Regions from separate parts of the Homo sapiens genome. Here region 1 is linked to region 2. The links come from fine-mapping of genetic effects on plasma protein levels. A gene starts in region 2. The other region holds a variant in brackets. All regions are shown on one strand. Distances are between the middles of the regions.

Region 1 (5,369 bases), 84 kb before region 2:
TCAGAGCCCCATCTTGTTAACTGTCAAACTCCAGCATTGTAGATGCCCTCTGATTGAGAGAAGACATTGTTAACACTCTATGATCTTTCATTAACTCATGAATGACTTATTTTTTAACCTCTAAAAATGGTATGTGTGTGTATCTGTATTGCCAGCATGAGAGTCATTATGGTGATATAAGCCACAAGAACACCTGATTAGGAGCCATCACCTGTGCCCTCCTCCCACTCCCTCCTCTTGATAGCTGTGTGCCCCTACACATGACACTTGTCATCTCTGAGCCTCAGTTTCCTGATCTGGTCATTGCCCCCTTATTTCCAACCATTGTCCCAGCCCTGAGTTATTTCAGTCCTGCTACTGTGACTTCCAGCCTCCCAGGCTTTGCACATGCTGGTCCCTCTCTCCCACTTCCTCTTCACCTTGCTGGCTTCTACACATCATTGAGGTCTTGACCTTGATCTCTCTTCTGAAGGAGTCCTTTGTGACTCCTCAACAAATTTATGTCCCATGTGCCCCACACGTCTGTAAGCACTCTGTCTCTCCTCTGATCTATACTGGTCTCAATTGTTTAACAACTTTTAAATGTCTGCCTTACCCCCTAGATGATGCAGGGCAGATCTTGTGTCTGTCTTGTCCTACCTACAAGCCACCATGCTACATGCTACAGTATCTGCAAGGCAATGGACCTGACACACCAATGATGCAGCTGGTGTATATGTATGGAACTTAATTACATTTAAACATTTTTCAAGTGGGAATAATAATAACCTATGCTGCTGTCCTGTCTCATCGGGTTGTGAGGGTCAGGGGGATAAAATCCATAATCATTATAATAGCACTAATTGAGGACGGGCCCTATGCCAATTATCATGTGGATTGATTCACATGTATTATCTCAGTTGATTCTCACAATGACCCTGTGAGGAGGGTACTCTTATGATTTTACTTTTACAGATGAGGAAACTGAAGCTTAGCAAGGCCAAATAACATATCTGAGATCACACAGATCACAAGTGGCAAAGTTTGGCTCTGAACCCAGCTCATCAGTGTCTAGACTGTATGTTCTTAAGTGTTATGTTAAACTGCTTTAGGCTGTGCTCTGTTCCAATGTCATGTGCAGTACTGTCAGGTAAAAATTTTAAATGCATTCTTACACACACATCCAGCTATTCCCATTGTTTGTCATGAATTTTCATGGCAGTAACATGGGATTTGATGTATAGACTACAAATGGTTTAGCTTTGTTTTTTCTATTCTGTTCTTCTCCCTACTTTAAAGAGAATATTTTCATTTGCCAAAGTGGACATTTAGGATAATTCACAGACGTAATGTGCCCATTACCATCCTGATACCTCTGCATGCTTCTGTGAAATGCAGGTGAGGGTATAGAAATCACCACTAGAGGGTTTCCAAGAGCCAGTCTCTCCACCATCTACAAGGCTCCAGAACTCTCCATCAGCCTCCAGCCATCACTTGGGTACCTTGCCTCCACCATGCCCTGGCTCCACTCCCAAGCCTCAGGCTCCTAAGGAGGATTCTCTATTTTCAGTTGTAGGCAGACCCAGGGACAAAAGATCCTTCACCTGGGGCTGCACTGGCAGCTCTGCCCTCCAAACGGGCCCCCAGGTGCAAGAGGCCAGGAGAAGTTGCCTGTCTCAAGTCCTACAGCCAGTGCACACTGGGGCCAGGCCTGGAGACCTAGTCTCCTGGTGTTCTCCATGGGCCTGCTCAGAACAAGCCCTGTTCTAGGAGCTGAGGCTACAAAGTTGAACAGGAGAAAATTCCAGCCTTCATAGAGCTCAGCCAAGACCCAAACAGGCAAAAAAAAAAAAAAAAAAAAACCACCAACAATTCATCTGGTTATAATTATAAGAGCAGTTGAAGTGTTGAGTTCCAGCAAGGAGTCAGGCAGTGTCCAAGCCCTCTCTATATATTATCTCCTTTAAGCCTGCCCACAGCCATGTGAGGGAAGTAGTATTATTACCCCCGTTTACAGATGAGGAGACTTTTGTTTGGAGAGGTCACATGGTGAGTAAATAATGGAGCCATTACTCAAACCCAGGCCTCTAGAGTTCAGAGTCTCAGCTTCTATCACCTAAACACCACACTACCAAGAAGATGTGAGCAGGATAGACTACGATCACAGAAGACAGAGGGCCTGACTTCGCCTGGGAATATTTACACAAAGGAAGTGACATTTGCCCTAGTTCTTAGAGGAGAGGAGTTGCCAGGATGACAAAGGCAAAAAGACTTCCACATAGGGGAGACACCATGTACAAAGGCCCAGAGGCATATGGTCAAAAAGTCATATGGCAAGAAGTTTCACTAGACTATAACATCAGGGGCCTCTGAGGGTGGGGCCAGGAACGGGTCTGAAGAGAGAAACAGGGACTAGTTGATCAAAGATCTCGAATGCCATGATCAGGGATGTAGATTTAATCCCAAAGACAACTTGGAGCCACGAAAAGCATTTTAGAGCAGGGAAGTGACAACAATTGTGCAAAGAATCAGTAAAAAATTAATCACAGCCAGGTTAAATCCTAGGCAGGAGAGTAGCCTGTTGGGAAATGATAGTTATAAAACAGAAAGAGAAGAAAGACAGAAGCCTGAACTAAGGCAATGGCATGGGATAGGAAGATCTGGGAGGGACAGGATAGGATATGAGTGTGAAGAAAAGGAAAGAATCGAAGTTGACTCCCCTGGTTTCTCCTGAAGCTGCTGCCCTCGCTGAGATAGGAAACACATCCAGGGAGGAACTGTTTTCATTTGGTTTGATTACAGGGTGTGGCCTCTGACAAGTGGAGAGCACAGGGCCACAGCAGAAGTGGGGGTCAGGCCTTGCAGAGGGGCCCATCGAAGGGGGCCCCAGCTTTCTCAGGAAGGAGACTGGACCTGGTGAATCCCACATGGCCCCACCACAAGCCCATCTAATACCAGCCACAGTCACGGTGCCGCCACATAATAAG[T/C]GCCCTTCTCAATTTTGGGAGTCTAGGGACTGTGGCTCATTAAGGTTTGGACTGTGTTAGTGCTGAACATCCCATAATTGCATAGCTTGCCTGACTCTCTGTCATTAGCTCGCTGACTCTCTGGGCTCCACCTCTCCTACTGGATTTGCTGCTTGACCCCACTATGAAAAGTCTGATTACACAGAGCAGTTCTGGCTGTGTGGTGGGGGCTGCCTGCTGCCCCTGCCCCTTCCAACTCCCAGTGGGTCAATTGTCCTCAGCCATAAACTTCGAGCTGCCATCTCACCATGCATGAAATCCTTCCTTTGCAAGTACGAACAACTGATCCTATTACTCACACAGAGGACGGGAATTGAAAATTGAGGTAAAGGCAGATGGACTGGCAATGAGTCACATTCCCTTCATGGTGGAAAACCACCAGAGTCAGGAGCTTGTAAGGTCCCTGGCCAAGGAGCTGGAGAGGCCAGGGGCCAGGACTTGGGTTTGATTTCCTTAGTCTCCACAGTGAACTGAAATCTGAAGTTGATGCTATTAAGATTGTCCCCTTGCCTGGAGAGCAAGAAGGGCATCCAAGACAGTGAACGTGGCTCCCAGGAGTCCTACCCAGTTCCCAGAAGTTGCCTATTCCTCAAGTAGCCCTTTTCATTGCATTCTGATGGAGGCTGTCCTGAACATCTGGAATGAGGGGACCAAGTCCTAAAATTTGGGCTTTCTGAAGTCTGGCAGACTCAAACACAAAGCAAAATGCAACTACAATCATCTCCACATACCAGGTTATAGGCCAGGTAAGTTTTTTCTAAGCTGGAATTATCCAGGGTGGAATTGGGGTGGGAGAAGGGAGTAGCAAAGTCTCATACCAAGAAATTGCAGTATGAAACAGTGTTCTTCCTACTATATTTCCTCAGGGGTATTCCAAAGTCAGAAGGAATTAACCCACATAACAAAAAGGGAGGATTGCCACCTATAGTGCATCTTCGATGTACCAAGAACCTTCTGCTCCAGGCCTCACTGTGGTTTGATGATTGGAGATTGCCATCCCCATTCTACAGATGGAGAAACTGAGGCCTAGCGGCATTACATAACTTGTCTAAGACCTCATTGTTAATAGTGGCAATAAAGCTAAAATTGATTGGGTACTTATTACATTCTCGGCAGTGTGCTAAATGCTTGATTCAATCTTAATGGCTTAATTAACCCTCAAAACAATCCTATGAGATTCCCAGAACTGAGATTTGGTAGGCTGGGTGACTTGGCCAACATCACACAATGAATAAGTGGAAACAAAAATCCAGGCAATGTGAGACCAGAGCCTTGTTCTTAATTATTATGCTGTGCTCTTTGATGGTTTTCAGCAATTTAGCTAATACTGAAACCCTCAAATCCAAAGCTGGAGCTCTTTCTGCTATGCAAGACTGCCCTTAGGTGACATACAGTTGCCTTTTTATAGTTTATGATCATATAAAGACGATGGAGTGTCTGGTCTTTTTTCAAACCCTTGTCTGGTTTCTTTCTGAGGAAAATTGGGGTGCATGTTTTCAACATTCAGGACAGAACTTCTGACCCTGGCCTCAACATCACAGACCTCTGATGGATTTGTAGCAGCAGCAGGGAAGCCCAGAAGACCATGTAAGTAGTGATACAGTGGGGAGATATCCTCATGGGACCCTGACTGCCTAGAGGTCTCCTCATTCCCTCAGTGGCCTTGCCCTGCCTCTGCCCTTGCCTTGTGGACCGCCTCCTTCATTCCCCAAAGCCTACCACTTGGAGAAGGTCACTGTGCCTGACCCCTCAGAGGCCAAAGAGAACAATTTTCCCAGCTCAGAAGATCTGTACCTGGCCTCCATCTACTGGTACCAGTTCCTTATTCCCAGCTTATCCTGCTGATCTGGTGTCCAGTGTCCCCAAAACTCTAGGGTGAATAGTTTGTGGAAATCTATGCCTATTCTTTTCTTGGCTCATTTTAATTTCTTTTCATTTAGAATGGAACTTTAAAAGTCTTCAAATTCTGGAATTTGGATTTCTCTGCCTTACTTTAGTCTACCTTCTGTGTGAAGTGGGGAGTTCTCTGTAAAGGAACAATTTACTATACCTGAAACACTTGGAAGTGACCTCCAAAACGTACTAAGCACCCCAAATGGGCCAGGCACTGGGCCTGTGTGCTAGGATTACGGAGGAGAGATGTGAGAATATGGTCCGCATGAGGGCAGGATCGTTTATTGCACAGTGACATACTCCCTCTACCTACAACAGCACCCAGTACTTCATAGGCACTCTATAAAGATTTACTAAATAATTGTAAACAAACCATTATGGATCACTGTGCTGCAAATGGCATTTTGAAGTTAACACAGAGGGTTAGCAGAGCACAGAGAAGAGATATGTAACCCAAGCCAGAATATCTCA
Region 2 (5,296 bases):
CAAAAATACCAATACCAGCATGAAGACAAATCAGAGAGGAATCCACATGCATCAGGTTCATAAAGTGGAGCAAGAAGGGGAATCAGGAGAGTTGAGAGAAGTTCAGCTGCCATCTGGGGGACCCTGGAGTCGGGTAGTGGTCCCTCTGCAAGCTGTTGACTATGTCCCTATTCTTGCCAGGAATTTCAGGCCCGAAGTTGATGCCAGGGAACATATGAAAGTTTTTCAGGTACTGCAAGTATGTGCCCTGCAAGCAGGTACTCAGATTACTATACGCTACTTAAATCTAGGACTGCTCAAGCTGCAAGGGAAGGACATGCCAGACAGTACCATGCACTAGGGACTGTCCCCATGGGCAGTCACTCAGAAGGTTGGACCAGGCAGGGGACATGTCGAGTGGGAGCAGGTGGGGCAGGCAGGAGGGCAGCTCACACACACTCCATTAGGAGAGGTGAGAGGGTCAGTGGGCCAGGGCAGTGTAGAGAAGGGCTGAATGAGGAAGGATGATCTTTTCTGGTATTCCCATGATGTTCAGCCCTTCATGCTCAACAGAGAGGTTCTCGGGGTGAATGTAGGTGTGACACATGCCTCTGCCCAGCAGTGCTGGGAGCAGGCCAGGGGTTGGTCTCTGCTCAGGCTCAACATGCACAAGGATGTGGGTCTGGGAAACGGTGCTCTCCCTGGCCTCATGACAACATGCACATCTCCACAGAGCTTGCACATCTAAAGGCTCAAACCTACCTCAGACACTGCTCTGTCCCCACCCCCTGCAAGGGCTTCATCTTCACCTTGCAAATGTGAAATGAAGGCTTCTTGCAGGTATGAAAGAATGGCATGCACATGTGAAATTTCTAAAACTTTCTGAGATATTGGGTCTATTCCTGACTTCACCCTTACCAGTCTTAACTCATCCAATGCTAGGAGATCTCCCAGTACTGCAAGAGCAATTTCCACAGTGAACGATTCCACACCTCCCCATTTCATTTTCTATCAGTTTTCACAAATTGAGTTTTTTCTATGTCTAGAAAAAGCTTCTACATCTATGTTCTAACAGCTTTCAGAAACGGAGCTTTTTATTGTGTCTAACCACACACAGTCCCTCCAGGTGCACTGGGACCTCTGTCTCCCTTGGAACTTGAGAAAGGGAGCCTGCTGGACAAATCAGCTTGCTGGACCCCTTGCCAGTGTGTTCTCTCCTGCCTCTTGGGATCCACCTTCCTGTGTATGCTGCGGGGAGAGGAGTCCCTGTGCTGGGCGCTTGGGGAACCTCACCTGGAGCCCTGTGTCTCCTGCTCCTGCTTCAGCTCACTGGCCTTCATCTGCACATAGTCCTGCACCAGTGCAGCCAGCAGGAGGCGCGCGTCCTCTTTACTGAGTGTGGCCGGGTCTGGGCTGCTCTCCAGGGCAGACCTGTGGAAGGGAAGCAAACTCCTTGCAGGCTGTGAGCCCCTGACTGACCCTCCCCAGGATAGGCAGCCAGGCTTCCTGGTCTCTGCTTCTTCCCCTGGGGATGTGGCCACCGCGACTCCCAGGGGACGGGCATGAGGCCAGGGTCCACCTGTGGGCACTGATTCACCAGGAGCCACGCGTGACTTCAGAGGCACAGAGCTGTCTGGTCCTAGGGGCAGTGGGAGCAGAAGGCGCCTCTGGCTCCAGGCTGTCTCACCTGAATGGCGCCGCCTGGAGGCTGCCCGCCTGGTACAGGACCAAGATACTGAGAGCCAGGAAGGGGGAGAACTTCCGGAAACCCATGCCGCCTCTCTGTAAAGGAAGGATGACGTTACTACTGCACCAGCACAGATCTAGGTTCCAGTCCTGCCTCTGCCACAACTGCCATGTGACCTTAGGCACGTTACTTCAGCTGCCTGAGCCTCTGTTCCCTTCATTTGCAGGAAGGGCTGCTGTGAATCTCAAGAGACACATTGCAGTGAGTGAATGGCTTGATAGAGCGGAAAAAGGTGTCCTAGGGGAAGGGTGGAGAGAAAGGATGAATTTTGGTTCTGTTTTGTTGAAGGCCAGGGAGAAGCCACACGCGCCCGTGCACACAAACAGACACTTCTGCCCTGATTTATGCCTAAACCAGGCGTGGACGCACCTTGCTGTAGACCTGCTCTCCCCTTCTCGCCTTCTCCTCTGCTGGGCTTCGCGCCAACGCATGCGAGGGGAAGGTGGGAAGGGTGGATTGGAAAGGAGCGCTCATTTCTCAGTCTTGGAACTGGGAAAAATTTTTAACGTGCCAGTTACGGGTGTCTCAGGACTCGCCCGCAAAGCCAGCCCTCTGCCGGAGCGCGTTTTAGCAGCAGATGCTGAGCAGCAGCTCCGCGAGGTGAGCGCCCAGGGTTCTAGTCCGCTAACAACACTGCCTTAGATCCGGACCGGAATCCCGGGAAGGCTCACCAGGGAGGCGCCTCAGAGGAAAGCTCAGGGTTCCGACCTCCCGGGAACGAAACATGCTCCCGAAGGACAAAGACGGCGCAGGGCGCTCCCGGACCCAACTCTGCAGAATCCTGCGCTCAGCCAGGCCCCAACGCCAGGGCTGCAGACCCGCCTACCTCCGCTCGCTGCGCTTCCAGCGCCCACGCTGAGCCATGGGGATGCTTGGGCTCCTCTCGCACTGGTAGGAGAAACTGCCAGGACAACCCTAACCGCTCGCCTTCTACGGGGCCTGGAAGAGAGCTAGGACCACCGCTGTAAGGTAGGACCAGATGGCGGCGGAGAGGCAGACAGGCAGATGGAGCAAACTGGATGAACTAGTCGAAGAAGCAGGTTATTCGAGTGAGCGGAATGGGGAATGGGAAGTTCCTCACCTGGCGACTAGAGTTTCAGGGCAGCGCGAGCGGCCGGTCGACCCGGGATGAACACCACACCTGCTGTGGGCGCCTTCCCCGCGGAGACCCCGCTCTTATTACAGAGATAGCTGGAGGGGGGGGGTCCCCACCAGCCCGCGCGGCCAATCCAAAGTGGCCAGGACTAGCCAATCAAAGGACCGACCGAGCTCCGATTGCGTCATAGCTCGCACTGCCGGCACTGGTACTCTGGAGCGGGGGCAGTCCGCCCCGCTGTCATTTTTTTCATTGAGGTCATTGCTTGGGAAGCTGGAGAGCCTGGGAGAGGACAGAGATTTTTCAACTAAGAGTCGGGGCAAGTCGAGGAGAGTTTGGCGTCACCTACAGTGAGGGGCCAGAGCTGCTCTCACCTCCTTGGCTCCTAAATTCCTGCCTCGCACTCCCTCCTGTCACGCCAGTGAGGGACCCGAATCCAGCCACCCGAACCCCCAGCGAGGTTGAGCAGTAGTAGTCCTGGGTTCTAAAGGGACCACAGCTGAAAGAGCCCACGGCAGGGAAGGAGGGGGGGGGAGGGAAAAGGGGAGGGAGGGGTCCTCAAAATTTGATCTTTTTGGACCACCTGGGGTGCTTCCCTGGATATCCTCCGACCCCTCGAGCCCTGGCAACCTGGGCACCCAAAGAAGGCTGTTTTGGTGCCAGTCTGGCAGCCAGCCCTTCTCCACCTCACTCCTCTGGGACGGGCAGGAGCCGAAGAGAGGTTGGGGAGAGGGCTAAACTGACATAGCCTGCATACAAGGCTCAGCATCCACCTCCTCCCTCTTCCCCTATATCCCCAAATCCTCGACCGCGGGTCCAGCATCCCCCACGCCAAGCCAGGACCCTCCACTGCTGCGCCGAAGTTGGCTTACACAGCTGCCCTGCAACTCTGCCACCTGTTTGCCAAGCTGCCTGGCGGAGATGGTCTATGCCCGGGTCTCTATCTCTCTCGTTCCACACCCCTACCCCACTTCGCTGAAGCGCCTGAGAGCTGAGCGCGCTGGGGTCCAGCTGCCACCCACGGAGGGGAGCAGGTGCTGCAGCGCGAGAGTCAGCCTGAGAATTTTCACACAAGTTCCACTCGCGACTACAGACCAGCCAGTGCGCGCATCATCACTCACATGGCAGGACCCCCACCACACGCTCTGCCTTCTGCATTCACAGACAGTCCATCAGACAGCCAGCACTCACTGGAACAGATGCGCCCTCACCAGCTGCTCCGAAAAGGGAGCGTGCGCAGGAACCCAAACTAACCACACCCATACCCGAAAGCAACCCCGTGTGTTTCTGTTTCCAAAAACAGGCGTGTTTTATGCAATTGGGGGTACATACTGTCCCCTAAACATGCACACCGACACATGCACGTCCACGCACACAAACTCGGCCTATCCATCTTTTCTGAAGGAAAGCCGGGTTCTGGGAGTCGGCACTGCCAGCTCTTCTTGCTCCCGGGTTCCAGGAGAAGATCCCAGCTTTGGCAGAATAGGCTAGGAAGGAGCTGGGGGTAGGGGCGATGGCAAGAAAGAAAGGGGCGCCTCTCACCACAGCCCCCAGCCCCGGGCCTCCGGTTCGCTCTCTGACGCTTGGCAGCAGCGACCCTAAATAAGTCCGCCGGCGCCCACTGCACTCCTGGAGAGCATTCGGGAAAACTTGCTGGAGGCTGCCGGGCAGGAAGCAAAGCCAGAGGCTGGCGGAACCCCTGCAGGTGATGCTCACTGTTTCTGCGGGTCAGAAAAAAGTTCAGGGGATATCTGTCTAGGCCCTCTGGGTCCTTTTCTTGTGGCAGGACCCAGCTGGTGGGACTAGGGCGGGTTGGCCTCCAGCACCCGTGCAATGGAAACTCCAGGTAACACCCACGAAGAATCGGGACCGCTGACTCGGGTGACTGCCGCCCGGCCTGCAACTCAGATGCGCAGCGTGCACTGAGGCAGGGTGACCTGCAGTCGCCCCCTCCCCTGGGAAGGCAGTCAGAACTGTTCTAGAAGTAGCTCCGGCCTGTGGCGGACTCGAAGTAAGGCAGGAGGACTTCCAGGACCTTTGTAGTACCACACCAGGAACTGCAGCTCTCTAAGGAGTATTTCTATGTATGCGAAGGTTCTCTACGTCTAGACTGTTGGATGCGCTTTTGTGTTTTTGGTTCTGCTTTGTTTTTTAATTTTTAATTTGTGTAAGTTCATACTAGGTGTATACATTTATGGGGTTCATGAGATGTTTTGATACAAGCATACAATGTAATAATCACATCATGGAGAATAGGGTATTTGTCCCCTCAAGCATGTATCCTTTGTGTTACAAACAATCCAATTACACTGTTTTAGTTATTTTTAAATGTACAATTAAGTTATTATTGACTATAGTCACCCTGTTGTGCTAGCAAATGGTAGGTCTTATTCATTCAATTTTTTTTGTACCCTTTAACCATTCCCATCTCCACCATCACCACCCATTACCCTTCTCAGCCTCTGATAACCATC

Direction of the effects. Positions count from the first base shown, and alleles are read on the strand shown. Strength reflects both the effect of a copy and how common the allele is.
With allele C in place of T in region 1, the plasma level of the protein whose gene starts at base 2,878 in region 2 is higher (weak association).

What was found. PIP is the chance, under the fine-mapping model, that this variant and not a neighbour inherited with it causes the effect. The UK Biobank Pharma Proteomics Project read protein levels with antibody pairs (Olink). The fine-mapping took linkage between variants from a reference panel, not from the people measured, so its PIPs are less certain.
Region 1: its variant is fine-mapped to the plasma level of the CALCB protein (UK Biobank, PIP 0.97).

Annotation. Positions count from the first base shown.
Region 1 is chr11:15,155,333-15,160,701 of GRCh38, reverse strand. The region is part of intron 2 of INSC (INSC spindle orientation adaptor protein); the gene reads right to left. Among named protein-coding and RNA genes, the nearest start is that of INSC, 43 kb to the right of the region's middle. The variant T/C (reference allele first, on the strand shown) is at 2,967.
Region 2 is chr11:15,071,175-15,076,470 of GRCh38, reverse strand. It overlaps CALCB (calcitonin related polypeptide beta), which reads right to left and starts at 2,878. Exons shown (of 5, transcript NM_000728.4): 1 at 2,808-2,878; 2 at 1,667-1,761; 3 at 1,273-1,410. The coding sequence starts at 1,752. RefSeq lists a silencer at 1,383-1,432 and an enhancer at 1,475-1,976.